Linked DNA regions of Homo sapiens. The protein of the gene in region 1 purifies or fractionates together with the protein of each later gene. This does not show direct contact. Each region holds a gene or a part of one and is shown in the gene's direction. Other genes may lie near its edges. The genes, in order: BPNT1, NUDT19, ACAD10, CHDH, GFM2, TBC1D9B and REXO5.

Region 1 (4,718 bases):
CTTGCATTATGTTTGTCTTTATTTAAGCCATTTGTACTTGTCATGTAATTATACAATTTAATTATAAAAACCAAAGTATGGCCAGGTGCAGTGGCTCATGCCTGTAATCTCAGCACTTTGGGAGGCCGAGGCGGGCGGATCATGAGGTCAGGAGTTCGAGACCAGCCTGGCCAACATGGTGAAACCCCGTCTTTACTAAAAAAAAAAAAAATGCAAAAACTAGCTGGGCTGGGTGGTGTGCGCCTGTAGTCCCAGTTACTCAGGAGGCTGAAGCAGGAGAATAGCTTGAACCCTGGGAGGCAGAGGTTGCAGTGAGCCGAGATCAAGCCATTGCACTCCAGCCTGGGCGACAGAGTAAGACGCCGTCTCAAAAAATATATATATGTATATATGTGTGTGTGTGTGTGTGTGTATATATATATATATATATATATATATATATATATATATGGTTAAAGTAATATAATTTAAGTTATGTATATTTTTCCACTTCCCAAAAAGGGTCTACTTAACTCACAGAGTTATTGTGAAAATCAAATGAAGACGTAAAAGCCTTTTTAAGCTGGGCGCAGTGGCTCACACCTGTAATCCCAGCACTTTGGGAGGCCGAGGTGAGCAGATCACCTGGGGTCAGGAGTTCAAGACCAGCCTGGCCAATATGATGAAACCCCGTCTCTACTTAAAAAACAAACAAAATTAGCCCGGCGTGGTGGCGCGCCTGTAGTCCTAGCTACTTGGGAGGCTAAGGAGGAAGGATCGCTTGAACCCAGGAGGAGGAGGTTGTAGTGAACCTAGACTGCGCCACTGCACTCCAGCCTGGGCGACAGGATGAGACACTGCCCCCTTCCCCAACCACGCCCCCCAGTAAAAGATCCCATCTGTACACAAAAAATATTTTAATTAGCTGGGTGTGGTGGCGCGCACCTCCACCAGTAGTCCCAGCTACACGGAAGGCTGAGGCGGGAGGATGGCTTGAGCCTAGAAGTGGGAAGGCAGCAGTGAGCCGTAATCGACTCTGGGCGACAGAGCAAGCTATCTATCGCTTAAAAAAAAAAAAAAAAAAAAAAAAAAAAAGGTAAGCAAGCATCTTTGACACAATTCTGCATAAAGTTGCTGTGTTATTGCGTGGGGAGTGGGAGGTGGAGGTGTGTGTGGTGGACCTGCTGAAGCCTGTCCACGGACCGCTAGGGGTTCGAAGTTAAATAGCCGCAGAGTGGTATCACTAATACAAAGAACATTTTAAAACAGTGAACTCTACGAAGTGGGCTGGAAGACAGCTGAAACCAAAACCAATCTTTTTTTTGTTTCAACACACTGTTGCTGGCTTAATGTGTTCTTTCCTTCTTCTTTTTCTTTTTTTAGCCAATCTTTGAAAGTTGACACATCTTTCGCTTTTATTTAATGCAACAGGTGACTTGCACCTACGGAGAGCTTGGAGAAAACACGGACAAGTGGAATTTTCCCGCGGATCAGGAGTCTAAAGAGGCAGTGTGAAATCGCTGTTGTGCGCTTGCGCGCAGTTTCCCGCATGCTCAGTAGCTGAGGTAGGGATGCCATCCTTCTCAAAAGACTTATTGACAGTGCCAAAGCTCGGTACTGGACACAACGAGGGACCTGGGTCTACGATAACGCGCTTTTGCTCCTCCTGAAGTGTCTTTGGTCCAACGTTGTTCCAGGTTTGTCACCGTTTCTCTCCGGCCGGTCAGGGCAAGAGCCAGGTAGATAGGATTTATGTTAAAAAAATAAAACGAAAAAGGTTTATGTGAATCAGATTGCTTCTCCAGATATTCTAACTTCCGACTTGGACTCTTGAGTGTCGATATTTTAATTGTTTATCTGTGCTTTTATTTTCGTGATCCGGAAGGTTTTTATAGCCATATACTGTAGAAACAAGACAAACCTAGACATTGAGTTTGTTGATGCACCCAAATTTAGAAACTGCTTGGTACCTAAAATTAAATTTCTTTAAACAGCAAATATTCTTCCAACTGCCATTTCTACATATTTATAGGTTTGCGTGATTTATTTGGATTTCTCTGTAAATATAATTGTTGGTTCAAAAGATACGTACTTTATACTTTTATTAAGGTTCTCAAAACTCTCCTAAGAGGGTTCACCGCTTTGCCAACAATGCTCAGGAACATGTTCCCTCACACCCTTGCAAACTGGACAAAGGACAAACTCTTCTTCTTTCTTCTTTTTTCTTCTTCTTCTTCCTCCTCCTTCCTCCTCCTTCTTTTTTTTTTTTTTTTTTTTTTTTCGAGACGGAGTCTCGCTCTGTCGCCCAGGCTTGAGTGCAGTGGTGCAATCTCGGCTCACTGCAAGCTCCACCTCCCAGGTTCACGCCATTCTCCTGCCTCAGCCTCCCGAGTAGCTGGGACTACAGGCGCCCACCACCAAGCCTGGCTAATTTTTTTTGTATTTTTAGTAGAGACGGGGTTTCACCGTGTTAGTCAGGATGGTTTCGATCTCCTGACCTCGTGATCTGCCCGTCTCGGCCTCCCAAAGTGCTGGGATTACAGGCGTGAGCCACCGCGCCCAGCCTTTCTTTCTTTCTTTTTTTTTTTTTTTTAAGACAGGTTCTAGCTCTGTCCCCCAGGCTGGAGTACAGTGGTGCCATTATGTCTCACTGCAACCTTGACCTCCCAGGGTCTGGTGATTCTCCCACCTCAGCCTCCCGAGCAGCTGGGACTACAGGCATGTGCCACCACACCATCTAATTTTTGCATTTTTTTGTAGAGACGAGGTTTTGCCATGTTGCCCAGGCTGGTCTCGAACTCCTGAGCTCAAGCAATACACCAGCCTTGGCCTCCCAAAAAGTTCTAGGATTACGGGTGTGAGCCACTGCATTCAGCGACAATTTTTTTTTTTTTTTTTTTTTTTGAGTCGGAGTCTCTGTCGCCCAGGCTGGACTGCAGTGGCGCGATCTCGGCTCACCACAACCTCTGCCTCCTATGTTCAAGCAATTTTCCTGCCTCAGCCTCCTGAGTAATTTTTGTATTACTATGCCTGGTTAATTTTTGTATTTTTAGTAGAGATGGGGTTTCACCATGTTGGCCAGGCTAGTCTTGAACTCCTAACTTCAGGTGATTCACCTGCCTTGGCCTCCCAAAGTGCTGGGATTACAGGTGTGAGCCACCGTGCCCTGCCAAATTTTCTTTTCTATGCCAATCTTAAAAATAAACAATCATGGCCCGGCGCGGTGGCTCACGCCTGTAATCCTAGCACTTTGGGAGGCTTAGGCAGGCCATGAGGTCGGAAGTTCGAGACCAGCCTGACCAACATGGAGAAACCCTGTCTCTACTAAAAATACAAAATTAGCCAGGTGTGGAGATGCTTGCCTGTAATCCCAGCTACTCGGGAGGCTGAGGCAGGAGAATCGCTTAAACCCGGGAGGCAGAGGTTGCGGTGAGCCAAGATCTCGCCATTGCACTCCAGCCTGGGCAACAAGAGCAAAAACTCTGTCTCAAAAAATAAATAAATTAATTAATTAATTAAAAATAAAATAATCATTTCTCATTGTTTTAGTTTGCATTTCTTTCATAATTAGTGAAGCTGAGTATTTATGTATTTAATGGCCAGTGCTTTTCTCTTTGTAGGTGTTGCCCGTTCTTGTTTATTTGCTCATTTTTCTATTGGATTATTCAGCTTTTATATACTGATCTTTTACAAATTAAGTCATTTGTCTGGTATGTGATACAATATTTTTTTCTCATTTTGTCAAGTACCTGTTTATTTAGTTTATGGTATTTTGGCCATGTAGAAGTTTTAATTTTATTTTTATTTATTGATTGATTGATTTTGAGACGGAATCTCGCTCTGTCACCCAGGCTGGAGTGCAATGGTGCAAATGATCTCAGCTCACTGCAACTTCTACCTCCCAGGTTCAAGCAATTCTCCTGCCTCAGCCTCCTGAGTAGCTGGGATTACAGGCGCGTGCCACCAAGCCCGGCTAATTTTTGTATTTTTAGTAGAGACAGGGTTTCACCAAGTTGGTCAGGCTGGTCTTGAACTCCTGACCTCGTCATCCGCCCGACTTGGCCTCCCGAAGTGCTGGGATTACAGGCCACCGCGCCCAGCAACTCTTAGTTTTATAGAGTCAAATTTATCAATAGAATATTTTATGGATTCTTGGTTTTATGCTTAAAGGGCATTTACCAAGCTTATGAAGTTTATAATTTTTATTTCCATGCTTTTATGGTTTCTTTTTTTACTTTTATAAACCATGCATTGAAATGTATTTATATCAAAATGTATTTATATCAAAATATCAAAAGAATGCAAAAAGGACTCAACTTTTTTTTTTTTTTTTTTTGAGACGGAGTCTTGCTCTGTCGCCCAGGCTGGAGTGCAGTGGCACCATCTCGGCTCACTGCAACCTCCGCCTCCCAAGTTCGAGCAATTCTCCTGCCTCAGCCTCCCAAGAAGTTGGGGTTACAGGCGCCCGCCAATATGCCCGGCTCATTTTTTTTTTTTTTTAAGTTTAGCAACTCAGGCCGGGCGGAGTGGCTCACACCTGTAATCTCAGCACTTTGGGAGGCAGGCGGATCACAAGGTCAGGAGTTCAAGACTAGCCTGGCCAACATGGTGAAACCCCATCTCTATTAACAGTACAAAAATTAGCCTGGCATGGTGGCTTGTGCCTGTAGTCCCAGCTACTCAAGAGGCTGAGGCAGGAGAATCGGCTGAACCCGGGAGGCGGAGGTTGCAGTGAGCCG
Region 2 (4,834 bases), on another chromosome or scaffold:
TGAGGTCAGGCGTTAGAGACCAGCCTCACCAACATGATGAAACCTTGTCTCTGCTAAAAATACAAAAATTAGTCAGGCGTAGTAGCATGCGCCTGCAATCCCAGCTACTCCAGAGGCTGAGGCAGGAGAATTGCTTGAACCCGAGAGGCAGATATTGCAGTAAGCCGAGATCGCACCACTGCACTCCAGCCTGGTGAGAGCGCCAGACTCCCTCTCAAAAAAAAAAAAGGTTCAGTTTCTGTTGTTTTGCTATGCACCCAGGACCAGGACTTGGTCATCTCACTCATGAGTAACCAGCTTCTGTGAAAACCAGCTGATGTTGAAACACACACATTCACCTACAAAACCACGGTGTTATTTTACAGCAAAGGGAGTAGTATGTTCTTAAGACCCTTAATCCCTCCATAAATGGTTAGTCATCTGTAAAATAGTGGTAACTGTTTCCACTTCATGGGGTTTTGTAAGAATTACACAACTAATACTAATAAAGTTCCTAGTGCCTCACACACTGTACCCAGTAACTACTAATATTATTATCCCCTAGGATTATTATTACTCCTAGTATTGAAGACATGTTACTTTAATCACCTGAGTGCCTTTCTCTCCATTGCTCTGTATTTTTATTTTATTTATTTATTTATTTTTTTGAGACAGAGTCTCGCTCTGTCACCCATGCCGGAATGCAGTGGCAGGATCTTGGCTCACAGCAACCTCCACCCAGATTCAAGTGATTCTCCTGCCTCAGCCTCCTGAGTAGCTGCAACTATAGGCGCGGGCCGCCACACCCAGCTAATTTTTGTATTTTTAGTAGAGGCGGGGTTTTGCCATGTTGGCCATGCTGGTCTTGAAGTCCTGGCCTCAGGTGATCCGACCACCTCGGCCTCCCAAAGTGCTGGGATTACAGGTGTAAGCCACAGCGCCTGGCCAGAGACCAGGTCTCTTCAAACAAAAAAACAAACAAAACCCCTAAATATTGACAATGTCATCTGTGGATTCTACCCAGGAAATAACCCACATTAAAATGATGGTTTGTGAGGGTCGGCAGGGGTATAGTGTATTTCATCCAAAAACATAACAAATGTGTGATCCAATTATAATAGCAATTATGGGAAAAGCTGTCGGTGACTGATAAGGAGTTATAAAAGAAAAGACTCAAATTTACACAGGCTTTTCAAAAGATCATAATCCTGCTATTGGAGGTGGAAGTCTTCTAGACACTAACAAGGTGGAGAGAAATCTCCATGTGGAGGCCCAGATTAAACATCTCCCATCAAAGTGGAACTCGTCAAATGTCCTAAGACACCTAAGGCCGTCCCCAGGCGCCCTGACAATAAAAGGTAACCAGAACACGAGAGAAATTACTCTGGGAGTACCTTTCACATTCAAGGTGTGCAGTAGGAAATTTATAAATTGGCATCTGGCTCGTCCATTCATTTCTCATTGGTGTGGTTCACGTGTGCTTGCAAAGGTCAGACTTCTGCCCTTCGAATGTCCTCTCTCCCTCTCCCACAGAAAACACCCACATGTGGGTCCTTGTTTAAAGCAGAAAGTCCTAGTCCTTAGCTTTTAGTGAGGTGGATGTCATCAGGCCTGGGTTGGCATCCTGTTTTTTACCATGGCAAGTCATATGCGCCCTTAAGCATTCCTGCTTTTGGTCCAAGCTTCCTGCGTGGGAATACTGCGGTCCTCCTTTCAGGCAGCTGTGAATGACAAACGGTCGCTGGCTGCCGTGACACCCATTGTCCCGCGAGAGTGCCCTAGCTGGGCCCCAGTGCACTCGAGGCGGTCCCTGCTCGGGTGCCCCTCCCACAGGCAGGCGCCGTTGCCGACCAAACGCCCAGGTTCACCCAACGCCAGAGGCTCGTCCTCAATTCCCGCGAGGCCCCCGGAGGTGCTGGGGTCCCTGCAGGGCCGGGCCACCTGCCGTGGAGCTCAGGCCGCGCCAGAATCGGATCCGGGAAGCTGCGCGCCATGAGCAGCTCCCTGCGGCCGGGCCCCAGCCGCTGGCGGCGGGCGGCCAGCATCGTCCTGGCGGCTGGCTGGTCGCGCCCGGAGACCGCCACCCCGCCGTCGCGCCCGCCGCCGGCCGAGGGCTTCCGGCTGCTGCTGCTGCAGCGCTCCCCGCACCAAGGCTTCATGCCGGGCGCGCACGTCTTCTCCGGCGGAGTGCTGGATGCGGCCGACCGCTCGGCGGACTGGCTGGGCCTCTTCGCGCCGCACCACGGGCCGCCGCGCTTCGGCCTGGGCCCGGCGCCATTCAGCCGCACCGCTTTCCCGTCGCTGCCCGACACCGATGACCACAAGACCGACAACACTGGGACGCTGCCTGAGGACGTAGCCTTCCGCATCTGCGCCGTGCGGGAGGCCTTTGAGGAGGCGGGCGTGCTGCTGCTGCGGCCCAGGACTTCCCCACCAGGCCCAGCACCCGGGCCTGGCCTCGCCCTGGAGCCACCGCCGGGCCTGGCCTCCTGGCGCGACCGCGTGCGCCAGGACCCGCGCCACTTCCTGCGGCTGTGCGCCCACCTCGACTGCACACCCGACATCTGGGCGCTGCACAACTGGAGCGCCTGGCTCACCCCTTTCTTGCGGGGCACCACTCGCCGCTTTGACACGGCCTTCTTCCTGTGCTGCCTGCGCGAGCCGCCGCCCGTCTACCCCGACTTGGCGGAGGTGGTGGGCTACCAGGTAAGGCCTGCTCAGGGCCTTGCTGCGGACCGCCAGGACGTGAGAGGGAGGACCCCTCCCAGCGGCCCAGGCCCCCAAGGGACCCCCGCATAGGCCAAGCCCAGAGAGATTAAGCAGCAAGGAACGCTTAGACGGGCTGGAAACTCTCACCCCTGTAGACCAAAGCCATGCTCTTGGTGAAGTGCTCTCTGCTTTCCTAGGCTTTGGGGTCTCAAGGCCTGGAGCCTGTCTCTCCACGTGGTTCCTCCAGCGTGGCCACTGTGTAAGCACTTGTACATGTGTAGACATAGTACATCTCCACAGCCGTTTAATTTGGTTTTCTTGGAGAACAGACTTAATATGATCCAGTCTTCCTATTTTTATTTATTTTTGGTACAGATGGGGGTCTTGTCTCTCTGTGTTGCACACCCAGGCTCGTCTCCAGCTCCTGGTGTGTCCAGAATTGGTTCCTTCCAGTGGGTTCTTGGTCTCGCTGACTTTAAGAATAAAGCCGCGGACCCTCGAAGTGAGTGTTACAGTTCTTAAAGATGGTGTGTCCAGTTTCTTCCTTCAGATGTTCAGATGTGTCTGGAGTTTCTTCCTTCTGGTAGGTTCGTGGTCTCGCTGACTTCAGGATTGAAGCCGCAGACCTTCGCAGTGAGTGTTACAGCTCTTAAAGGTGGTGCGTCAGGAGTTGTTTGTTCCTCTTGGTGGGTTTGTGGTCTCGCTGGCTTCAGGAGCGAAGCTGCAGACATTTGTGGTCAGTGTTACAGCTTATAAAGGTAGTGCGGACCCAAGGAGTGAGCAGCAGCAAGATTTATTGCAAAGAGCAAAAGAACAAACCTCCCACAGCGGAAGGGGATCAGAGCAGGTTGGGTGCTGGTGGCTGGGTGGCCAGCTTTTATTCCCTTATTTGGCCCTGCCCATGTCCTGCTGATTGGTCCATTTTGCAGAGTGCTGATTGGTCCATTTTTACAGAGTGCGGATTGGTGCGTTTACAAATCTTTAGCTAGACAGAGCACTGATTGGTGCGTTTTTACATAGTACTGATTGGTGCATTTACAAACCTTTAGCTAGACACAGAGCACTGATTGGTGCGTTTTTACAGAGTGCTGATTGGTGCATTTACAAATCTTTAGCTAGACAGAAAAGTTCTCCAAGTCCCCACTGGACCCAGGAAGTCCAGGGGCTTCACCTCTCAATCCCGCCTCTAAACAGGGCACCCCATCTGCTGTTGGGAATTGGGCAATGACTGCTCTAGCTACTTCCTGCTGGACAGGGGCAAAGAAGGGGCCCTGCAGTTGTAGTGTCCTCCAGAGGGGAACTCTCTAGGCCAGTGAAAGGGCCAGTGGGTCGGTCCAGGGGTCCTCGGTAGAAGTTGTTAGTTGAGCTCATTTGGGTTTCCGTTTGTAAGACCATCTGTAGTTTGATGGCCTTGATTCTAGAGGAAACAAATTTGACAAGGAGGTTAAAAATACAGGGCCCGAAGGCGAGTAATAGTAAAACGGCTGTCACAGGATGTAGAAAGGGGAGAAGCCATGTTGCCCAACTCCAGAGGTTGGTATAAGAGTTTGAAAGGCGTTGTCTGATTTCAGAAACCTTTTCCTGTAAATGCCGGGCGGCATCTTGCACTATCCCTGACTTGTTAGTGTAAAAACAACACTCTTCCCCTAAGGTGCAAAGTCCTCCTTTCTCAGCAGTGAGGAGGTCTAGGCCTCGGGGGTTTTGGAGAGTCACTGCTGCCAGAGTCTATTTGGGATTGTAGTTACTATCCTTACTGAATAGATTTTGTTATTTCTTGCAAACTGTCTGAGAAATACTTTGAGAGTGTGTGGTAGTAAGATAATGAAGTAGATAAACTGGCTATTCCGGTTCCTGTAGCAGTGGCCATTTCTAGCCCTATAAGTAGGGGTATCAGTTGTATGGCCCTGTGCTGATGGACTTGAGCTTTGAGGGGCACTGATAGGGTCTGATGTCCATAAGATTAGAAGTTAGGATAATATGTGTTACACTGTTAACTTTTAGCAAACTTTACTTTTGTTGAAAACCTTAAGTTTGGGATTTCAATTATTCTTTGCTATTAATAAGACCTCGTTCAGTCCATATTCACTTAAAATTGGTATAGATGGCTCCTTCCTGATTCTGTAAGTACTTTAAGGTTTGGCTGAGT
Region 3 (4,035 bases), on another chromosome or scaffold:
CTGGTCTCGAACTCGCAACCTCAGGTGATCCACCCGCCTTGGCCTCCCATAGTGGTGGGATTACAGGAGTGAGCCACCACACCTGGCCCAGATTTACAATTTTTAAAGAATACTCTGACTGGAGGGTGAAGAAAGAATTGGAGAGAGGTCTGAGAAGAGGCAAGGGGGCCAGTTAGGATCCATGGGCAAGATGGTGGCAGTGAGAATGCAAAGAGGTAGATGAGATTTTCAGGAGAAAGACTTGACAGCACAGAACTAGATAGGGCGAGGTGAGGTAGAGATTGCAGAAAGTCAGAGGCGAGTCCCAGCTTTCTAGCTTGGGCAGCCGAGTGGGCGATGGAGCCCTTGACTAAGTAGCCAGGGAGGGAGGAGACACTGAGGTCAGTTGTGGGTGTGATTCGAAGTGCCTGTTGGAGATGGGTTAGAGATGTCTGGCTGGCCCCTCTGAGCTCCAGGATGGAGGCCTGGTTGGGAGGCAGTGCAGGCAAGTAACGCCCTGTGCCTTCTTCCCACACAGCCTCAGCCTCACCATGTGTGTCAGGAGCTGTTTCCAGTCCCCCCGTCTCCAGTGGGTGTGGAGAACAGCCTTCCTGAAACACACCCAGCGCAGGCACCAGGGGTCCCACCGATGGACACACCTTGGAGGCAGCACCTACAGAGCGGTGATTTTCGACATGGGCGGAGTTCTCATTCCTTCTCCAGGGAGAGTCGCTGCAGGTGAGCTATTGATTCTGTTTCACTTTGTGGGACTAGAGTGGTGGTGGGAGAATGGAGGGTGATCGGGAAGGCAGAGGGGAACACTTGGGCAGCAGTGTGTCCCAGCAGGCCATGCTCTGGCTCTCGAGTCGAATTCCAAGCACCACTAGGGGGCTGAGTGTCTTGGGCGCATGATTCAGCTTCTCCAAATCTTACTTTCCTCATCATTAAATGAGCTAATGGTAGTGCCTTCCTCCTTGGGATTTGGCGGAGAGTTATCCGTGGGAAGCACTTGCTTAGCACAGTGATTGCTCAGTGCATCCTAAATTCTCAATCAATGATGAGCTGCCATGAATGCTGTGATTAGAATTTAACCACCAAGGCAGGGCACAGTGGCTGAAGCCTGTAATCCCAGCACTTTTGGAGGCCGAGGTGAGAGGGTCGTTTGAGCCCAGGAGTTCAAGACCAGCCTGAGCAACATAGTGAGACCCCGTATCTGCAGAAATTTAAAAATTATCTGGGCATGATGACAGGCACCTGTAGTTCTAGCTACTCAGGAGGCTGAGGTCGGAGGATCACATGAATCCAGGTGGTTGAGGCTGTAGTCAGCCGTGATCATGCCACTGCACTCCAGCCTGGGTAACAGAGCAAGACCCTTACTCAAAAACAAACAACCAAAAATCCCAAAGAATTTAACCACTTCTTCTTGGGAACTGTTCTACTTCTGAAATCTAGAATGCTGAAATTCCCCTTTTGATTACAGCCTTCCTCCCTTCTACCCCACTCCCTCTAAACCTGCTTCTGGACTGACAGGGTAAGGGTCAGCCCTCTGGTCTCTGGTCTTCTCTTTACCAGCCCCTTCCTGGTTTTACTTCTTTTCTACTCAGTTCAGTTTTTATTAGTTAAAGTCGTTTTGGCTTCAAGCAGTAGAAAACCTAACAAAACAGTGACTGAAACAAGCTAGAAGTTTCTTTCTCTTGCACATAAAAGCCCAGGTATGTGGTCTGGGGCACTGTGTGATGCGACTCTGTGGTATCAGGGACTCCGACTCTTTATAGCATGTTGCTCTGCTGTGACTTTTCATTTCCACTCTTACATTGTGGTCTGTCTTGGCTGTGTCGCCTCCTGCTATCATATTCTCATGCCAGCCAGCAGGAAGGACAAAGGGCCAGGCAGCCATCCCTCTCCTTTTGACCTTCTGTGGTGGCTGGTTGGCCAGTTCTCCATCCTAAATCAACCCAGGCACAGGTTTTCTATGCCTGCGTGTCTAGGCTTTCCAGCACTGCTGACCAAATTACTCAGCCGTGCTAACTGGCTGCACAAGCTGGTTTCTGAGCTCCAGCCTCAGTTGGGCCATTGGTGCTACGCCTGAGCCTCTCTGTTCCTTCACTCTTATCTCTCTGTTCCTTCACTCGTATCTCTGTCATGTTTACCTCAGGGGCTGTTCCAGACTGTCCACTCCCCCTGCTCCTTACCACCCCCAAATATTCTTGCTCTGCAGATAGCTGAATCTGTTCTTCTACAAAGAACATAAAGACTAAACCTGAGCAACACAGTGAGACCCTATGGTGAGCTAGGATTGCACCACTGCACCCCAGACTGGCACAACAGTCTTTTTTAGAGAACCTGTCTCTAAAAAAAAAGGCAGCAGGGAAGAACATAAAGATCACTGGACAGAAAGTTTCTTGACTTTCTCTAGAATATCTTAAGAACCAATTCACTTCTCTCCATTGCCACTGCCTCCACCCTTGCCTTCTCTCACCCAAATGATGTCATCAGCCTCCTAACTTCCTCTGCCTCTGGCTCTCTGGATTTTACAAAATCTCCTCCCAGCTCCAGAATTAACCTTTCTAAAACATGGATCGTGCTTCTGCGCTTAGCAGCTCACACCTGTAATCTCAGCAATTTAGGAGGCCGAGGTGGGCAGATCGCTTGAGCACAGGAGTTCAAGACCAGCCTGGCCAACCTGGTGAAACCTTGTCTCTACGAAAAATACAAAAAGCGTACCTGGGCATGGTGGTGCATGGATGTAGTCCCAGCTACTTGAGGGGCTGCGGTGGGAGGAACTCTTTAGCCTGGGCGATTGAGGCTGCAGTGAGCTGAGATTGCACCACTGCACTCCAGCCTGGGTGACAAAGTGAGACCCTGTCACAAAATAATAAATAAAATAAAAATAAAGCATAGATCTTGTTCCTTTCATCCCTGGCTTGAAAATCTTGAATGCCTGCATGTGGTCCCCTAGATTAAGTCTAGAAGCTTTCACCTGGGATTCAGGGCTCCTCTCAGTTTTAGCTTTCCTGCTATGGACTACCTGATGCTCCCCAGGCATGCCAGGCACATTTGCATGTTTGTGCCTTTGCAAGCTGTGTTTCCTCCCTGCCTCCTCTGCCTGTTCAAATCCTACTGATGCTTTTAATGGCAAATTTAAGGGGATATTATTCAGCAATGACTGGAATCTTTTGAACACTCAGTAAATCTCATGGTTGTTACTAACTTCAAGAGTCCTCTTCTGTCAAGACTTCTCCAACCTCATTTGCAACCTGGGCAGAATGTTCCTGGATAGCCAATTCCCATTAAGTTTCACCTTCACCGAGATATTTTTGTTTGCAGTGGGATATGTTCATGTCTCCTCTATGGGGCTCTTGGATTCCAGGACCCCAGGTCTGGGATTTCTTCACTTCACTGTTGCAGTGTTAGCTCTGCAGGCTGGCTCAGTCATTCAGGAAATGTTTGATGGGTAAATGTGAACAAAATAGTGATGCCTTCTACTTTGTCTTTTGCTTGACTGGAGCTTCTAATGTTATTTATTTCAAATGAACCATATCAAGGGTCATTTGATAAGAATATACTAGAATTGGCCAGGTGCGGTGGCTCATGCCTTTAATCTCAGCACTTTGGGAGGACGAGATGGGCGGATCACTTGAGGTCATGAGTTTGAGACCAGCCTGGCCAACATGGCAAAATCCAATCTCTACTAAAAATTCAAAAATAAGCGGGGCATGGTGATGGGCACCTGAAATTGCAGCTACTCTGGAGGCTGAGCAGGGAGAACCACTTGAACCCGGGAAACAGAGGTTGCAGTGAGCTGAGATCATACCATTGCGCTGCAGCTTGGGAGACAGAGCAAGACTCTGTCTCAAAAAAAAAAAAAGTATATATATATATACACTAGAATTACTGTACTATACTATTTTTTTTTTTCTTGAGATGGGATCGCGCTCTGTTTCTTAGGCTGGAGTGCAGTGGTACAATCATGGCTCACTGCAGCCTGAAACTCCTGGGCTCAAGCAATCCTGCCTCAGGCTCCCAAGTAGCTGGGACTACAGGTGTTTGCCACTA
Region 4 (4,780 bases), on another chromosome or scaffold:
GTCAATCATTTATTTGTCTTTTAAAAAATGAACTCTAAGGGATATCATCAGATTTTTTTTTCCTTTTTCTGAGACAGAGTCTCACTTTGTCACCCAGGCTGGAGTACAGTGGCGCAGATCTCGGCTCACTGCAACCTCTGGCTCCCGGGTTCAAGTGATTCTCCTGCCTCAGCCTCCGGAGTAGCTGGGATTACAGGCGCCTGCCACCATGCCCGGCTACTTTTTGTATTTTTAGTAGAGACGGGGTTTCACCATGTTAGCCAGGCTGTTCCCAAACTCCTGACCTCAGGCAATCCGGCCGCCTCAGCCTCCCAAAGTGCTGGGATTACAGGCGTGAGCCACCGAGCCCGGCCAGACTTGACTTTTTTTTTTTTTTTTTAACAAATGAGCCATCATACCAGGAGCTGAGTTCTTATCAAACGGCCGGTGAGAGGCCAAGCAACAACCCTAAATGCTACCAAGCTCAAATTGTTGGCCTTGCAGCAACTACAGCAAAAGGGATGAATTCTTCCCTTTAGTGCAAAGAGCCAAGAGGGCTTCTGAACTGACACAGAGGGGAAGGATAGGAGCTGAAGACATCAGGAAACAGTGAATGGGGTTTGTCCACCAGCAGGTGACTACGGAGCTTGATGCTATATGCTATTCTAAGAGGGCAGCGGTATCATTTCAAAGGTTATTTGGGGGATGAGCTATTTTCTCTTCAGTGACCCAGAAGATTCCCTCGATCATTCAGGGTACTGGGGAAGAAAGGCAACTGCCTTCACGAGTGAACATGGCAATCAATATGGCCAAAAAGGGAGGGGGTACTAATGGAGAAACAGTTCTTGTGCCCCAACAGGTGAGCAGACCCCAAGTAACAATAACTACGTGCCAGGCCCTTCGCCGCTAATTGCAGGCCATGTCGTTATACCTTAAGAGACCCTGGTGGGTTCGGTACTGCCCTTCGTTTTACCGTTCGGGACTTGGAACTTGGTGAGCATAAATGACAGAACCAACAGTACAGGGTGGCATCTGAGACCGGGTCTGTCTGATTCCCACGCCCCTGACTCAAGCAACCTGACGCCGATGTCCGGGGCTGCCCTGAGGGTGCAGGCATGCCCCTTGAGCCGGCAGTCCGCGCACGCCTTCGGGGCAGCCTGGACTGGCGGATCAGACGACGTCAGGATCTGGGCTCGAGGGCCGGGAGATGAGGGAAGAGGTGCTGGCGGGGGCTTACCGGCTCTCGGGGTACGGCGCTCCTGCACAGCGCGGCCAGGCTTAGCAGCACGAGCGACATCGCCGGGCCACTGCGCGGGATCCAGGCCACCCGCACGCTGCGCTTTTATCCCGGCGCCGCCGGGCCGCCCCTTCTCGGCTCCGCCTCTCGCAGCGCCGACCCATTCCCGCCACCCGAACAGAGGGCGGGCCCGCTGGCCCCCTCCCAGGCTGGGGCAGGTCGCAGCGCCCTCGCCTGCTGGGGCTCGGAGGGATGGGCCGTGTCCGAGCGCTGGCGGAGCACGGGCCGCCGCGGCGCGCGCCTACCCCCGCGCACACGTGCATGCAGTGAGCCAGGTGCATCAGCTGCACCCGCCCTCGGGCTTCGCGCGCCTCCGCTGGAGCCCAGCTAGCCTCGCGGCTCCGGGGCCGACCGGGTCGGAACTGCTGCGTCCCCATTCCGGACGCAGAGAGCGCGCGGGGCGCCGGCGCCGCCGGTTAAAGTGCCGCGGGGCAGGGGCCGGGCCGCGGCCACCCGCTCCTCCCGCTCCGGTCCCGACTGTCGGGCTCTCGGCCGAGTCGCCCCGGGTGAGTAGCCGCGGAGGCGCCCCGACCACCCCGCAGCAGCGCCGCCCGGCCGCTAGCCCGGAGAGGCCTGGGGGCCGGAGGTTTGGGGCCGGGCTGGACGCCGAGACCCGGGCCCGCTTTACACAATCGCCCCGCCGCGCGAAGCGAAACGGGTGGAACGCAGACTGCCGAAGCTCACTGACTCCTTTGAGGGAGCGAATTCTTTCAGCTACGCGGGGTTAGAGCGGTAGGAGTGCCCGCTGCCCGACCCCAGGCTTTCTGGTAAATGTCTGTTTCCACCAAGTGAGTTCGGACAGCAACACCTGGGGCTCCCAAAGCGGAAGCCGTCAGCACTGGCGATTTGGAGCTGCGGTTCTCAAGTTTCCCTGGCCCGGGATCTCTAGCGCCGCCTAAAATGAGATCCAGACGGCAGGTCCGGGTCAGGCCCGGGATCTGCATTTAACGAGCCTCCACCCACGCCCCCGTAATTCGTGGGTGGGTGGCCCAGGGACCATCCTTTGAGACACAGTGGGTTTGGGGGAAAGTTCACAAAAATCAGCTGGGCTAACAGTGGAGTCACAGAGGCTGGAACTGCTGCTTCAGCCCCCTCGGTTTGCAAACGACAGGGTTGTGGTGACCAACTCAGGGCCATTTAAACTTGTAGGCAGAATTAGCTCCATTCTACAGATGAGAAGACGGAGGCCTAGAGAGGGGTATGGAACTTAGGGGTGTGTTGTCAGCTGGTGAGAGGCTGTACTAAGTCAAGCAGCTGTTTTAGCTGAGGCCCTACTTGTGTGCCAGGCCTGGCCCACCTGCCAGCTTGATTAAGGCTTGCATGGACTGGGGATCAGCCAGGGGTTTGGGCTCTGGCATGCATACGTGTGGAGTTGCAGGTAGCATTTTCAGAGAATTGCTCTGTTTCCTGACCAAGGAACTCAGTTGAGGTTGTGGCCGCACCCCTGCCTGGGACTGGGCCACCCTGAGCCCCTCATTCCACCTCTCTGAGTTGCTTTGGGCCCTGTGGCCCTTGAGAACATTTTCAGCTCTAATAGTCATCTTCCTGTTCAGCAAATACCTGCTGGGTGCAAAGGTGAACCACACATGGGTGCTGGCTGATGGGTACTCCTGGAGTGAGGATGAGTGCAGTGAGAATTATTTTCAAGGACACAAGTACCCGCCTTGCTGCGGAAGCCCAGATGAAAACAGCCTCGTCTGCAAGCTCAAGATTGTGAACTTTGTCCCATGGTGCTGAGGAACAATGGTACAGGCTTAAATGGTCATCCATTTTTGGTTTTAGAAAGGCCACCTGGTTGGCTCTGCAGGGCAAAATAGAGGGCTAGTCCCTCTGAGACGAGCGAGCAGGCAGCCATTCACTAACATGCGTTCATTCCGTGAGTATCTGATTCTGTGCTGTGGGCCAGGCTCTGGGCTGTGCTGGCTTTTCAGTTGTGTGCCAGGGCAGGCCCTGCTGTGAGCTTGGTGTTGTTCGGCACACAGGCTTTGAGACAACCAGGGTGCGGAGGTTAGGCCTGGAGACAGGGTTCATGAGTCAGACTTTCTCAGGGGGCAGTGGAGAGGAGAGGAGGATAGAGCCCTGGGGAGGAGAGCTTGCCTGAGGAGGTGGGGAGGTCTAAGGGGCTGCAGCAGGAAAGCCCAGTAGTGAGGGAGGAGCTCATGGGGTCAGATGGGGCAGAGAGACCAAGGGCACTGAGGCTGGTTGGTGGCAGTCACAGGAAGCCTTGGCAAAAGGATAGGGGAGGGGGTTTTGTAAAAAGAGAAGGGCTGAGGTTCTTTCTCCCCCCAGGGGAAGAAGTGTCAGGTGAGGGTGGTCTGGAGGTGGCTGAGCTGTAAGAAGGAGGAGTACTCAGGCAGGGGCTGCCAGGCAGAGACCCAAGACCCAGGCCAAGTGGCTTTCCTGCTGTTCTGGGTTCAGAATGACACTGCCCTGGCCCCCTGGGGCTTAGGGATGGGGTGATACCTGGTTCAGTTTCGTAGTTGGGGCTGTGGAGTGGAGGAGAGGGTGTGAAGGGCCCTGTAGCCACAACTGGAGGTTGAGGTGGGCAAACAGGTGTGTCTGCCTGTCCCCTCGGGGGTTTTCCCCCCTAGCTCAGAAGGCCATGCCTCAAGTGGCCCTGCATGAGAGGTCCCAGGTGGCCTGCCGGAAGGCACACAATTTATTTGGCTGCCTAAGCCTGATGACTTTGTGGCTTTTTGAACTGGAGGCTCTGGCAAGTCACTGCTCTTCTCAGAGCAGTTTCCTTTTCTGTAAAATGGGGTGGTGATAGGGGCGATGAAGTGATTTGAGTCTATGAGAGAAGCGACCTTTGGACATTTTCTGACCTTCTCCCTTCAGTCATAAATTCTGCTAGGTCTGGGTTTCTGAAAGAGCTACCAGCCAGTGTGCCTTCCTGTCCGGGGGGGCTTTGTAGGGGGTGCTCATTAAATGCTTGAATGGATGAATAAATTAACACCTACCTTCATCCAAGGCCAGTGCCTGAGCCTGCCCACCCAGGGGAGCTGGTTTGAACTTCCTCCTCTTTCTTCACAAGCAGAGCAAAGGTCAGGGCCTCTGCCAGAGCCTGGAAGATCACTGGGTCAAGTACCTATGGCCCTGACCCAGACCCTAGGGTCTGCACAGACTCTGTGCAGCCACAGCGCGGTGAGATGCCTGGCTTCCAGACCACCTGGTTCTGCGGCTCATTCACCATCTGTTGGCCTTGAGTGAGGCTCTTAGTCTTTTGGAACCTGTTTCTCCATCTGTAACATGGGGCTGACATCAGTTCTGCCTCCCCAGCAGGGCTGTTAGGAAACGCAGAAGAAACAGCAAAACAGCAGATAGGAAAGCAAGTTGAAGGATTTAAGAGTGCTGTGTAAATTTAGGGGCAGGAGAGGCAGAACCAAAAAAAAAAAAAAAAGGTGGGGGGGGAAATTCCCTAGGACCCAAGAGTCACGGTAATCCCCAGATTCTGTCATTGTTATTCCGACCTTTGCTTCTTTGCCTGATCCATCCCTGGGAGAA
Region 5 (4,035 bases), on another chromosome or scaffold:
GTGTAAGTGTTGACCCTGCCATCTTAGTCTTAGAAAAGTGATATCCTGGGGATGTTTGTTAAATATTCTATAGTTATATTCATCTGGATTTCAGGATTTTTCATAAGCTCAAAATATTTTGTGGCTATAAAGAAAGGTCATTGTTTTACTCCTATTGTCACTAAAAGCTTTGTACTTAAGTAATAAGTCCTTTAAAATCTGAGTAAGCAATGTGTAAAATGGCAGAGAAATGGACTTTAATTATCTTAATCCTGACATTAATAACTTTTCATATCTCTAAATTGGAGAGGCATGATGGTGAAGAGCACAGGCTTTGTACTATTGGATTTAAATCCTAGCTTTTCCAAGTTCCTTAACATCTCATCTATAAAATGCAAAGAATAGGACCTATCTCATGGTGTTCTTATAAGAATTAAATGATTAGTAAAGCACAAAGAACAGTGCCTGGTATAGTAAGCTCTATATTAGTATGTATTAAAGTTAAAAATTGGAGGGAATGGGAATAAGATTGGAGAAGTTCTGTCATAGAAGTGTTTAAACTACTTTAAGTCAGGAATTCCTTTGAAACTAATGAAAATATGGAGCTCTCCTTAGATGCGCAAAATTTGGCAATTGCAGGAGAACTCAATTCTAAAACTTACCAGTGATTACCAGTTTAAGAACATCATTCTGTTAAGAGTGTTGGTTATGTGAACAATTTCAAGTTTATAGTATAGATTTTTATGGTTATGTAATGGACAGAAAGTGGAAGGAGAGCGTAAAAGCAGTAATTGGAAAGTACCTATTTATTTACCCTGTGCAGATTTCTTGATAAGTAGTGTGATATTCCCAGGTATAGCCTTCATGGGGAGAGCTCTTGGCAATGAAATTATTCACAAATAGAAGTAATATTTGGAAGAGAATCTGTTATTTTTAGTTTTGAGGAATTAATGGTAAGATCTCCATTGAGTAATTTAGTCAATGGAAGAAGAGAGTTACGTAACAAAGACATTATTTAGTGGCTCTAAGTAGCTCTACTAGAAGATAAAATAGATCTTTGGGGACATTAAGGTTAAGTTTCTGCAGTTATGGGAAGTGTATTTTATAGGCCTTTTTGGAATGTTTATTTTATAGGCAGTGGTATAAGGATGACTTATGTGCATTGGCATTTAAAGTTCTCCATGACAAGCAGCGAGGACCACTGGTTTTTATGCGCATTTACTCAGGCACTATAAAACCCCAGTTGGCCATTCATAATATTAATGGAAACTGCACGTAAGTAGAAGCTTAGATTATTTTATAAAACTGTATGCACTTCTTTAAAAATACTTTTACTAACATAAAATTGTGATTTTACAGGGAGAGAATAAGTCGTCTGCTTTTGCCGTTTGCTGACCAACATGTAGAAATCCCTTCATTGACTGCTGGTAACATTGCTTTGACTGTTGGGCTTAAACATGTAAGTGACCAAATGATTTCTCTAGGAAATAACAGCTTAAATATTTAATTACAAGTAAGCAACTTGTAATATCAAAAACCCATAAACAATCCAAATGTCCATCAATAGTAGAATAAAGAATATTATGGCATATTTGTCAACATGGCTGAATCTCATACATTTACTAGGAAGAAAAGTAGATTACGGAAGACCACAGACGGGATGGATTGTATTCATATAAAGTTCAAATCCAAGTAAAATAACATACTGTTTATGGATATATATGTATATACATATATGTGTGTTTTAAGTTTATATAAAATATTGTTTTGTTCCCATTGGGTTTATTCCTATCTTGAGCATTGCAAAAAATTTAACCTAGACTTATAACTGATCAGGTTATAATGTTTTGTTAGTAAAGCCTCCATGAGAGCAAGGATTTTTGTCTTTTTTGTTCAATGCCCTACAGTCCATAGATCAGTGTTTGCATATAGTAGACACTCCATAGATAATTGTAGGATGAATCGATGAAAATACTTGATGTTGTATTTATTTTTCATGGGTTAAAACTAAGGATATTTCATTTATATGGATTAAATCAAATATTTTCTCATTGACCTTTATGTAGTAAGCATTGTTATTTTAAACATTTTAACTCTTCATGACTAGTTTCAAGTTTGAAGATCCTTCAGTAGAAAATTCCTATAGGCTGGTCACTGGACTTCTGGCATTGGAATGTCCCCTCTATCTCCCTGAAGGCAGGAGCTCCTTGTATGTATTTGAAGAAGCTCTACAAATACATTGGGACTATTGCTTCAGTAGGATTGTTTTTACAGAGAAGGAAACTGGCACAGAACTTCACAATATAAAAGTTTAGAAGTGAAATTACAGTTTTTAAAAGATAATTGGGCTCTACATGGAAGCCAGCAATCTGCACAGTTAAGGGTATTCTGGTTAATTATATATTTTAGTTAATAGGAGATTTTCTGTAAAAAAGGAATAAATTCTTATGGGTGGTAGAACACTCTAATGGACTTCTCCCTAACCTGTCTTGTCATGATTGAAAATTTAGGAAGGTACATTTGTTTTGCCAAATGATTTTGGATGTGTATGTGTGTGTGTTTTATTGTTTGTTAGAATTTATTACAACAGTATTTTGGATAGAATTCTTATGCAAGTTAAATTAGCTTTACTTATGCAAAGTTATTAATGAGCTTTTTGAATTTTATTTCTCTTTTAAGTTCTGATGAAAAGAAAGGGCCACAAAAAAGTTTTCTTATATTGTGGTTCTTGGTGTAAGATGAGCGCTTGCTAAATGCCACTTTCGTTCCAAGTCATCTTGTTTGCTTGCAGACTGCCACTGGAGACACCATTGTCTCATCCAAGTCCAGTGCATTAGCTGCAGCTCGTAGAGCCGAACGGGAGGGAGAAAAGAAGCACAGACAAAACAATGAAGCAGAGAGACTTTTATTGGCTGGAGTGGAGATTCCAGAACCTGTTTTCTTCTGTACCATAGAACCCCCATCACTGTCTAAGCAGCCAGGTATAAATGGTCTTAGTGTGTCAACTAATTAGTGCGCTGATAATTTATATAAAATAGTTGCAATATACCCTCAAGAGATTTCTTATGTGATTGAGGTAAATTTTATCTGAATATATTGGTAAACATTTCTTGTGGTTGGTCTTGTTTTTTAAGATGTTTTGATTTTTACAAATGCCTTCATTTTTTTCTCTTCTTATTTCTTGGCCATTCTTCTCATATTATATTCTTCCTTACTCTTGTAGTGCTATCTATGGGATTCTAAGTAATTGGCCTTAGAACTGCCCTTCTAGTATATTAGATTAGACAGTAACTGATTCATAACCAATTCAGTTTGTCATCATCATGTATAAAAATGCTGTTTTACCTTGTTTTCTACCTCAACCTCTAGAACTCAATGAAGATATTTATATACTGTGGATAATCTTGTTTGACCTTTTGTTAGTAACTTTGTTCTTTAGCATTTTAGCTCAGATTTTTTTCAGTGGCTTCTCATTACTTCTAGCACACACCCAAACTCTTTAGTGTGGTATGTAAAACCCATGATTCCAATTATAATTTCCAATTAGATTTGGTTACATATAGCAGAAAACCCCCAAATAACAATTGCTTTAATAGGACAAAAATTTATTTCTCTCTATCTCCTAACAGAAGCCTTGAATTGGTAGTCAGGGATTAGAGTGGCTCCACAATGTTATCAGGGATCCAGGCTCTAATCTTTTTGTCCTGCCTGAGTGCATAGCTCCTGGAGCCTTGGGCATCACCTTGGAGTTCCTGACAACAGAAAGGAGTAAGGGGAAGGAAGAAGATAATACCCCTTTTCTCTTAAGATTTCTTCTATGTCATTGGCCAGCACTGAGACATATGGCAGCCTGTTGCAAGGAAGTCTGGTAAAAGCAGCCTTTTAAGTAGGCAGCAGCAGAGTAGAGTGGAAGGCTGCTAGTAGTCTCTGCCACAGCCTTCTTGCCTGGCTTCATTTCTTGTGAAACTTCCGCCTTCATTTTGACCCTCTTCTTTAACCCAAATTAGAATAAAACTATAGTACCTAGCCACACCTTATGCTCCCACAGTAAAATAA
Region 6 (4,035 bases), on another chromosome or scaffold:
ATTATAGGCGTGAGCCACCAGCCACCATTCCTGGGCTTTTTTTTTTTTTTTTTTTTTTTTTGAGACAGGATCTCCTTCTGTTGCCCACACTGGATCTCAGTGGCATGATCATGGCTCACTGCAGCCTCCACCTACTGGGCTCAATCGATCCTCCCACTTCAGCCTCCTGGGTAGCTGGAACTACAGGTACACACCACCACGCCCAGTTACTTTTTGTATTTTTTATAGAGATGGGGTCTCACTGTGTGGCCCAGGCTGGTCTTGAACTCCTGGGCTCAAGTGATCCGACCTCCTCAGCCTCCTAAAGTGCTAGGATTACAAAGTGTGAGCTACTGTGGCCTGGCCTATTTTTAATTTTTTGAGGAACTCCATACTTCCTCCCCAGCAGCTGCACCATTTTATATTCCCACCAGCAGTTCACAAGGGTTCCGATTTCTCCACATCCTCATCAACACTTGCTATATTCTGTTGTTGTTAGAGTGATGGGCATGAGGGTATCTAATTGTACTTTAGGTTAGCATTTCTCGCAGCTTTTGATTTTAAATCTAGGCATTTTCCTGGCCAAGTCATATGGCTTTCTGTTTGCCTTAAAGGTCTTGTTAGCAGCTAGGGCTGTGTGTGGTCCTAGTTGTGCACCGAGTGGGTGGCCTTGGTGTGGGGCTCTGGCCTTGTGGCTCACCTCCACATCAGCTTGGTCATAATCCCACCTCCAACACCCAACACCACTCCGCAGAAGTGTGATGTGTTGATGTTCACCTTCTCTGGTTTCCCAGTGCCTTCTGACCCAGTTTGAAGGAGTTGGCAGACTCTCTGTTCCATCAGTTTCCTACAAATTGCCTTTTGACATTTCCCAGAGTTGGGTAGGGGCAGTTTCTCATTACCGGATGCCCAGCCCTCCTGAAGAGGCAGATTTGCTTGTAGGAGGAGGCCATTAATCTTCACCACGAGAACCTGAAAAATAATAAAAATAACAACAACAAAAAGAAGATCATGTGGGCCCTTGCAGGGAGGGGTGGCTGGGAGGGGTGGGGAGAGACAGTTTTATTTGCTGGCCAGCAGTGCAAGCCTTCCCCGGCTGTCTCTGTGCCCGGCAGGCAATGAACATCGTGACCTCGGTGCTCCTGCTCTATGGCAGTGAGGAGGAGGCCTTCTGGCTCCTGGTGGCCCTGTGCGAGCGCATGCTGCCCGACTACTACAACACCAGGGTGGTGGGTGAGTGTCCCCGGGTGCTGCCTCGCCTGGGTCTCCAGGTGCCTGCTGGTTCCATGAGGGTGGCAGCCCTTCCCAGGCCAAGCTCCAGGCTTCACGTGGGTTCCCTAGGAGTTAGAGGGTAGTATTACACATTCGGTGGTTTATAAAAGTCCCCTCAGAGCCTAAATTCCTATCCATCTAACTTCCTGTCAACTTTTTGATTATGGAAAATTTCAAACATCAAAACTAGAGAGTATATATCCCCCATGTAACCTGATGCTCAACTTTACTGAACTCATATCCAGTGAAATCTGTTATGAAGTGGAAATGGACTTGCAAGAGTGTTTAATTAGGTTCATATTTAAGCATGTTATCCTGTCCTTCCCCTGCTGTCTGGTGTTTGGAGTTACCGCTCTTGGGGTCCTTCAGAGCTGCGTCTATTCACAATCATCAGGATGGGACAGAGTCATTGAGGGTGCTGTTTACCTCTCATGCCTTACGGAGAAATCAGTATTTCCCCAAAATAAAATTCAAGTGTAGTAGAAGAAATAGTTATTTCGCCCAGTGGTTTGGGAGCTGTAGAGAGACTTGAAGGGTTTTTTCGTCCTTGTTTTCTCCCAGCACTCCAAGTCTCCCTCAGCCCTCACTGCACAGCTGGCAGGGCTGGAGTGGCCAGGGCTCGTACGCTGCAGGTGAGGGCCCACCCAGGCCACAGGGTGGGCTCACCATCAGCCTCGCTCATCCTGCCCGCAGGAGCCCTGGTGGACCAAGGCATCTTCGAAGAGCTCACGAGAGACTTCCTGCCGCAGCTCTCGGAGAAGATGCAGGACCTGGGGGTGATCTCCAGCATCTCGCTGTCCTGGTTCCTGACCCTCTTCCTCAGCGTCATGCCCTTCGAGAGCGCCGTGGTCATCGTCGACTGCTTTTTCTATGAGGGCATCAAGGTGATCCTGCAGGTGGCCCTGGCCGTCCTGGACGCCAACATGGAGCAGCTGCTGGGCTGCAGCGACGAGGGCGAGGCCATGACCATGCTGGGCAGGTGACATGCCGGGTTCCTTCTCCTGCTGGGGGCTCACAGCAGAACCCCTCACCAGCCCCGGGCACTGTCCAGTCAGCCTGAAGTGACTGTGCCCACCAAGTGCCAGGCTGCAGCTGGACCCGGGGGTGCTCTGGGGTCAGGAGGCGGCTCCTTTCTAGTGGGAGATGAAGCAGCGCTCAGTGATAGGTGCCAGGAGGAGTAAAGCAGGCACTGCGGGCAGAGCATGCTGGCTGGAGGGCCACCGCTCAGATGTAGGGTTGGAGATGCTTCCCCTGAGGGCAAACCAGAGCCAAGATCCAGTGACCACAATTCCAGTTGGTGGCACAGCTGGGCATTTCATGTCCACCAGGTGGTCCCGGTCATACCTCTCCAAGCTCAGCTGCATTGCAGCCCCCATGCCCTGGAGGGAGCAGGCCTGCCCTGGGCCCGCTGGAACAGCTGGATGAGCTGATGTCCCACTAGTCACGCCAAATGTCCAGGGTCATCCCAGCCCCTCCACCCCCTCCTTAGTCCCCACATCCCATCTCTTGCAGATTCTGTCTGGGATCCAGCCCCTTCCCTTCAGCCTGCTGCCTCAGCCCAGGCCCACCATGCCCTTTCCCTGGGGTTCCCCTCTCAGTCTTTGACCTGCCTGCATCCCATGACTCTGATCAGACCTGGCCCTGCCCCTTCCCTGGGTCCTCTGTACAAAGGCACTGTCTGAGCCTCCAGCCTGGCCTTCAAGCCCCGGCCCCTCCTGGCTACACTCTGCCCTGCCCTGAGCTCTGTGCAGTCCCACCCTCCTACATAGCGTATTTGTCCGGACTGGAATGCCCCCAGCCCCCAGGAACAGCCTGGGACTCTGCCACTTGCCCATGGCCAGGCCAGGTGCTGCCTGGGACTCTCTAGATCCAGCAGGGTTGTCACCTCCCTACTGTGGGCCTAAGTAGCTTTTGGTCCACACTGATGTTAAGATACTCAGCCTGTGGCCGGAGTCTGTGGCTGGTTTTCCTGCCGCTTCCTACAATAGGCGGATAGGGCCTCCTCCAGAGCAGGGGTCTGACTGGGGATATGACCAGGGCTATGGGCATGGGGAGTCAGCTACCTCCTCCCACCTGAGTGTCAGGCTCAGCCCAGGGACCCAGAGAGGCCATGAACTCTGGCGGGGCTAGGTCAGCTGACAGAGGTAGGGCTCCATCCCCAGGACTGTGTCCCTAGAGAAGCTGATTCCCTGGGCTGCAGCAGGCCTCCCCACACCTGACTTTCTCCTGCGACTCAACCTTTGATCCCTGAATCTTCTTGGCCAGGGCGAGAAGGTCCCACATCCCCAGGGCCCCGCCAAAGGGAGGAAGCTCGTCATCCTTCCAACTGGGTAGGATCTGGGGTTATAAGGCGTTCCTGCCCAAGGGACCCCCCCACTGACTAAGAAAACAGCCCAGCGTCCTCAGGGTTAGTGCTCAGGCCTTGTCGGGGGCACTGCCCTGTAGAGGGCTCCCCAACTTGCTGGGGGCGCTGCCAGGGCACACCTCTGCCCTCCTGCAGGGTGCCCAGTCCTCTGCACACTCCTTATTAGGAGTCTGCATAAAGATTGGGTCCCTCCGCATCACCCAGCTGTGGGAAGGAGGCTCCCTCTGCCTGGGCGTGGTCTGGACTGTTGTCCTCTGTCCTTTGCAGATACCTGGATAATGTGGTCAACAAGCAGAGTGTCTCTCCTCCTATCCCGCACCTCCGTGCCTTGCTGAGCAGCAGCGATGACCCCCCTGCAGAGGTGGACATCTTTGAGCTCCTGAAAGTGTCCTATGAGGTCAGCACCCAGTGGGGCCATT
Region 7 (3,354 bases), on another chromosome or scaffold:
TCAATTAAGTCTCTAACATAATTCTGTGAGGCCATTATCTTTAGTTTCCTTTTACAGAAAAGAAAAGAAACGGAAAATTTTAGGAAACTGAAAAATGAAGTTATTAGTAATGGCAACAACTTGCTAGTATCCAATAGGCCTGAGGATTAAATTGATTTTCTACCACTAACACCAACTTTCCTTGGTTAGGTGCAGAGGCCTGTGACAGAGCTCACGCTTGATTGTGACACCCTCGTGAATGAGCTGGAAGGAGATTCTGAAAACCAAGGCTCTATATATCTGTCTGGAGTGAGTGAAACCTTCAAAGAACAGCTATTGCAGGAGCCCCGCCTCTTTCTTGGCCTGGAAGCTGTGATCTTGCCTAAAGATCTTAAAAGTGGAAAGCAGAAAAAATACTGTTTCCTGAGTAAGTCTATGCTACTGAATGTAGCTTTGGGGAAGGAAACTGGGGATGGTGATAACATGAGGTCAGAGAAAGGAAGATTCACCTCCTGGGCTGGACCAGGGCAGCAGTTCCTGATTCTGTCCTTCTCCTTTGACCCTGGCCAGGCAGCTTGGATGGTGATCAGCTTTCTTGGCCCTTAATAACATAAGGTGGGGGTTCTTGCTTTCAGAATTCAAAAGTTTTGGCAGTGCCCAGCAGGCCCTCAACATTCTCACAGGCAAGGACTGGAAGCTGAAAGGCAGGCATGCCCTAACCCCCAGGCACCTCCATGCCTGGCTCAGAGGCTTACCACCTGAATCAACAAGGCTCCCAGGGCTTCGTGTTGTACCTCCCCCCTTTGAACAGGAGGCCTTGCAGGTGAGTGAGTGAAGGCGTCTTGGAGAAGATGTCAGGAGAGTCCTGCTCAGTGACACTTAATCCTTTAATCTTTTTTTTTTTTCTACCCTGGCCCTCAGTCTTATTTCACTCTCCAGCTTCCTCCAGTCCTGGCCACATCTTTTCTCGCAGATCTCTCATACTTTTGCCCCCACCATACCTGCTAAACTTAGTTTTTTAGTCTTCCAGATCTCCAAGGGACTTTGAAGGACAAAGGCAGGAAGTCAGAGAGCTGGACAATTATTCAGTGATCTAGTCTAGGGTTTCCCAAAGTGTGGTATATACACAAGATAAATTGTGGTTGTCATAGATGGTCTTTTCTTTTTTGTTTTCACTTTTATGATTATGGACTTGTCCGTCTTTTTATTATATCTAAGACATCTGAATGGACTTGTTTTGCTAATACTTGTTAAAGTATACAATAACTACATTGAGCCTATGATTTTGTGGATGGCATTAGTTAGACAAGGCTAAGGAAGAAATTAACTCACTTTATGGAAAAATGTTAGAGGGATATACAAGCAGAAGAGTGGAGGTAGAAGGTAAATGGCTGAAGCTTGGGAAACCCTGTCTTAGTCTAATCTCTCATACTTAACAGATGAAAAGTAGGGGCTAGAGTTGGTAAGTCACTTGCCCAAGGTCACAAAGAGACTTAATGGCAGAAGCCAGACTAGACCCCTCATCAGCAATGTGGCTCCCCTAGCTTGGGGTCTTGGAAGACCCATGTGGAGGAAAGGACAGTAGCTGTCCTCCCCTGAGGAAGTCCTTAGCCAACTTGGAGGCCTGGGGATGCTGGGTCAGCAGAGAACCTGCAGTGTGGGCTCCAGTGTTAGAAAAGGGATTTGTCTGGAACCTTTACTGGAATCCCATAGCCTTAGAGGCAGAGGAAGAGTGTTGCAGCCCTTCCAAAGGTAACGAGAGAGTGTTCTGGCTGAGTATCGACACATGGCTTTGATCCCAGACTCTGAAACTGGACCACCCGAAGATAGCAGCCTGGCGCTGGAGCCGGAAGATTGGAAAGCTCTACAACAGCTTGTGCCCGGGCACTCTCTGCCTCATCCTGCTGCCAGGAACCAAGAGGTAAGGACTAGAAAGGGTATCCCTTCAGGACTCTGTCCCCTGGATTTCAGCTGTTCTTAGAGAAAAAGCCTTTTGCTGATATTTAGGCACATAGTGAGGACTTACATGAATCATCTCTTTAATTTTCACCGTTCTAAAAGATAGGCATTGTATTCCCATTTCACATTTATATGCTCTTGTATAACTACATTTATTGGTCCCTCAAGGAGATAATTTATCCCCAGTTAAAACCAGGAGTCTTATGTCCTTACTGCTCTCTGGAGTAAGAAGTAGCTGCTAACCCCACTTGAGTAAAAAAAGTAAAGTCTCAGAACAAGCCCTAGGCTTAGGTGTAACCACTCTACATGTGAGGAATGTGTTCCTGCCTTCTGTACCCTTTTCCCCATTGACACCTATGTTTTAAGAGATAACAGGGCCTGGTTTGCTGATTCTAAGCCTGAGGAATACTGGAGCAGGACTTTGAGTCTAGTTGCAGCTTTATCACCTATCTCCTCTGACAAGTGGCCAAGCTACTTCCCCACTGTAGGTCTCAATGTCCTTTTAGTAACATGAGGGATTTGGAATAAATCAGTTGATTTTCAAACCCTTTTAACTGTAAACCCTTTCTTTAAAGAAAAACTGATATTAAATCTTAAAGCATAAAGATGGGCAGTTTTGGAATGAGTGAGTGGGCAGCTAAATGAATGAGTGTATATTGGGGAAGGGAGGGAAAGATGGTGGCTTTTTTGAACAGTGTGAAAACCTTGGGTTGTGTTAATTTTTAAAAGTCCCTTGAGATTCTGACATCTGGTTAGGCGCAGTGGCTCATGCCTATAATCCTAGCACTTTAGAAGGCCAAGGTGAGCGGAGCACTTGAGCTCAGGAGTTCAAGACCAGACTAGGCAACATGACAAGACCCTGTCTCTACCAAAAACACACACACAAAAAAAAAAACAAAAAAAAAAAACCCAGCCAGGTTTGGTGTTGTGTGCCTGTGGTCCCAACTACTTGGGAGGCTGAGGCACGAGAATCACTTGAACCCAGGGGGCAGAGGTTGCAGTGAGCTGAGATTGCACCACTGCACTCCAGCCTGGGCTACAGAGTAAGACTCTTATCTCAAAAAAAAAAAAAAAAAAAGATTCTTACATTCTAGGAGTTGACAGAGCATGAATACCTCTGGCCTTGAAGGTGGATCAGAAGAAATTCATTTCCTAGCATAAAGTTCTTATAACATGCATCTGAGGACCATTAGGGAGATGGTCTACCTACTGGGCACCTTTGAAAGAACCGCTTTCTCTGAAAAGCAGAAACAAGTATTAGGTGCTTACATTGAGGGGAAAAAAAATCTTAGACCAACATACTTTAAACAGGCTTGTGGGTAAGCTAACAGGAACAGGTTAAAAAGTGACCACAAGTTGCCAGTAAAAGCTTTTTGGTTAAGATGTGGGCTCTGGGGAACAGACAGACTTGCTCCT

The links.
Region 2: the proteins of BPNT1 (region 1) and NUDT19 purify together in Homo sapiens (affinity purification with mass spectrometry; 2 studies listed by BioGRID and IntAct, with this or other methods). This does not show direct contact.
Region 3: the proteins of BPNT1 (region 1) and ACAD10 purify together in Homo sapiens (affinity purification with mass spectrometry; 2 studies listed by BioGRID and IntAct, with this or other methods). This does not show direct contact.
Region 4: the proteins of BPNT1 (region 1) and CHDH purify together in Homo sapiens (affinity purification with mass spectrometry; 2 studies listed by BioGRID and IntAct, with this or other methods). This does not show direct contact.
Region 5: the proteins of BPNT1 (region 1) and GFM2 purify together in Homo sapiens (affinity purification with mass spectrometry; 2 studies listed by BioGRID and IntAct, with this or other methods). This does not show direct contact.
Region 6: the proteins of BPNT1 (region 1) and TBC1D9B purify together in Homo sapiens (affinity purification with mass spectrometry; 2 studies listed by BioGRID and IntAct, with this or other methods). This does not show direct contact.
Region 7: the proteins of BPNT1 (region 1) and REXO5 purify together in Homo sapiens (affinity purification with mass spectrometry; 2 studies listed by BioGRID and IntAct, with this or other methods). This does not show direct contact.

What each region holds. Positions count from the first base shown.
Region 1 is NC_000001.11:220,086,644-220,091,361, reverse strand, and holds the start of BPNT1 (3'(2'),5'-bisphosphate nucleotidase 1), read left to right. Parts: upstream 1-1,573; 5' UTR 1,574-1,676; exon of another isoform or gene 1,677-1,718; intron 1,719-4,718. UniProt on the Homo sapiens protein: Phosphatase that converts 3'(2')-phosphoadenosine 5'-phosphate (PAP) to AMP and inositol 1,4-bisphosphate (Ins(1,4)P2) to inositol 4-phosphate. Is also able to hydrolyze adenosine 3'-phosphate 5'-phosphosulfate (PAPS) to adenosine 5'-phosphosulfate (APS).
Region 2 is NC_000019.10:32,689,990-32,694,823, forward strand, and holds the start of NUDT19 (acyl-coenzyme A diphosphatase NUDT19 precursor), read left to right. Parts: upstream 1-1,831; 5' UTR 1,832-1,971; coding exon 1,972-2,685; intron 2,686-2,975; exon of another isoform or gene 2,976-4,105; intron 4,106-4,834. UniProt on the Homo sapiens protein: Fatty acyl-coenzyme A (CoA) diphosphatase that hydrolyzes fatty acyl-CoA to yield acyl-4'-phosphopantetheine and adenosine 3',5'-bisphosphate.
Region 3 is NC_000012.12:111,692,180-111,696,214, forward strand, and holds part of ACAD10 (acyl-CoA dehydrogenase family member 10), read left to right. Parts: intron 1-517; 5' UTR 518-530; coding exon 531-717; intron 718-4,035.
Region 4 is NC_000003.12:53,843,085-53,847,864, reverse strand, and holds the start of CHDH (choline dehydrogenase, mitochondrial), read left to right. Parts: upstream 1-1,445; 5' UTR 1,446-1,782; intron 1,783-4,780. Other genes in the region: IL17RB (interleukin-17 receptor B precursor), read right to left, coding at 1,217-1,276.
Region 5 is NC_000005.10:74,735,721-74,739,755, reverse strand, and holds part of GFM2 (ribosome-releasing factor 2, mitochondrial), read left to right. Parts: intron 1-1,113; coding exon 1,114-1,254; intron 1,255-1,338; coding exon 1,339-1,438; intron 1,439-2,770; coding exon 2,771-2,960; coding exon of another isoform or gene 2,961-2,992; exon of another isoform or gene 2,993-3,412; intron 3,413-4,035.
Region 6 is NC_000005.10:179,873,097-179,877,131, reverse strand, and holds part of TBC1D9B (TBC1 domain family member 9B), read left to right. Parts: intron 1-1,094; coding exon 1,095-1,212; intron 1,213-1,944; coding exon 1,945-2,230; intron 2,231-3,883; coding exon 3,884-4,013; intron 4,014-4,035. UniProt on the Homo sapiens protein: May act as a GTPase-activating protein for Rab family protein(s).
Region 7 is NC_000016.10:20,844,440-20,847,793, forward strand, and holds part of REXO5 (RNA exonuclease 5), read left to right. Parts: intron 1-189; coding exon 190-406; intron 407-614; coding exon 615-802; intron 803-1,781; coding exon 1,782-1,900; intron 1,901-3,354.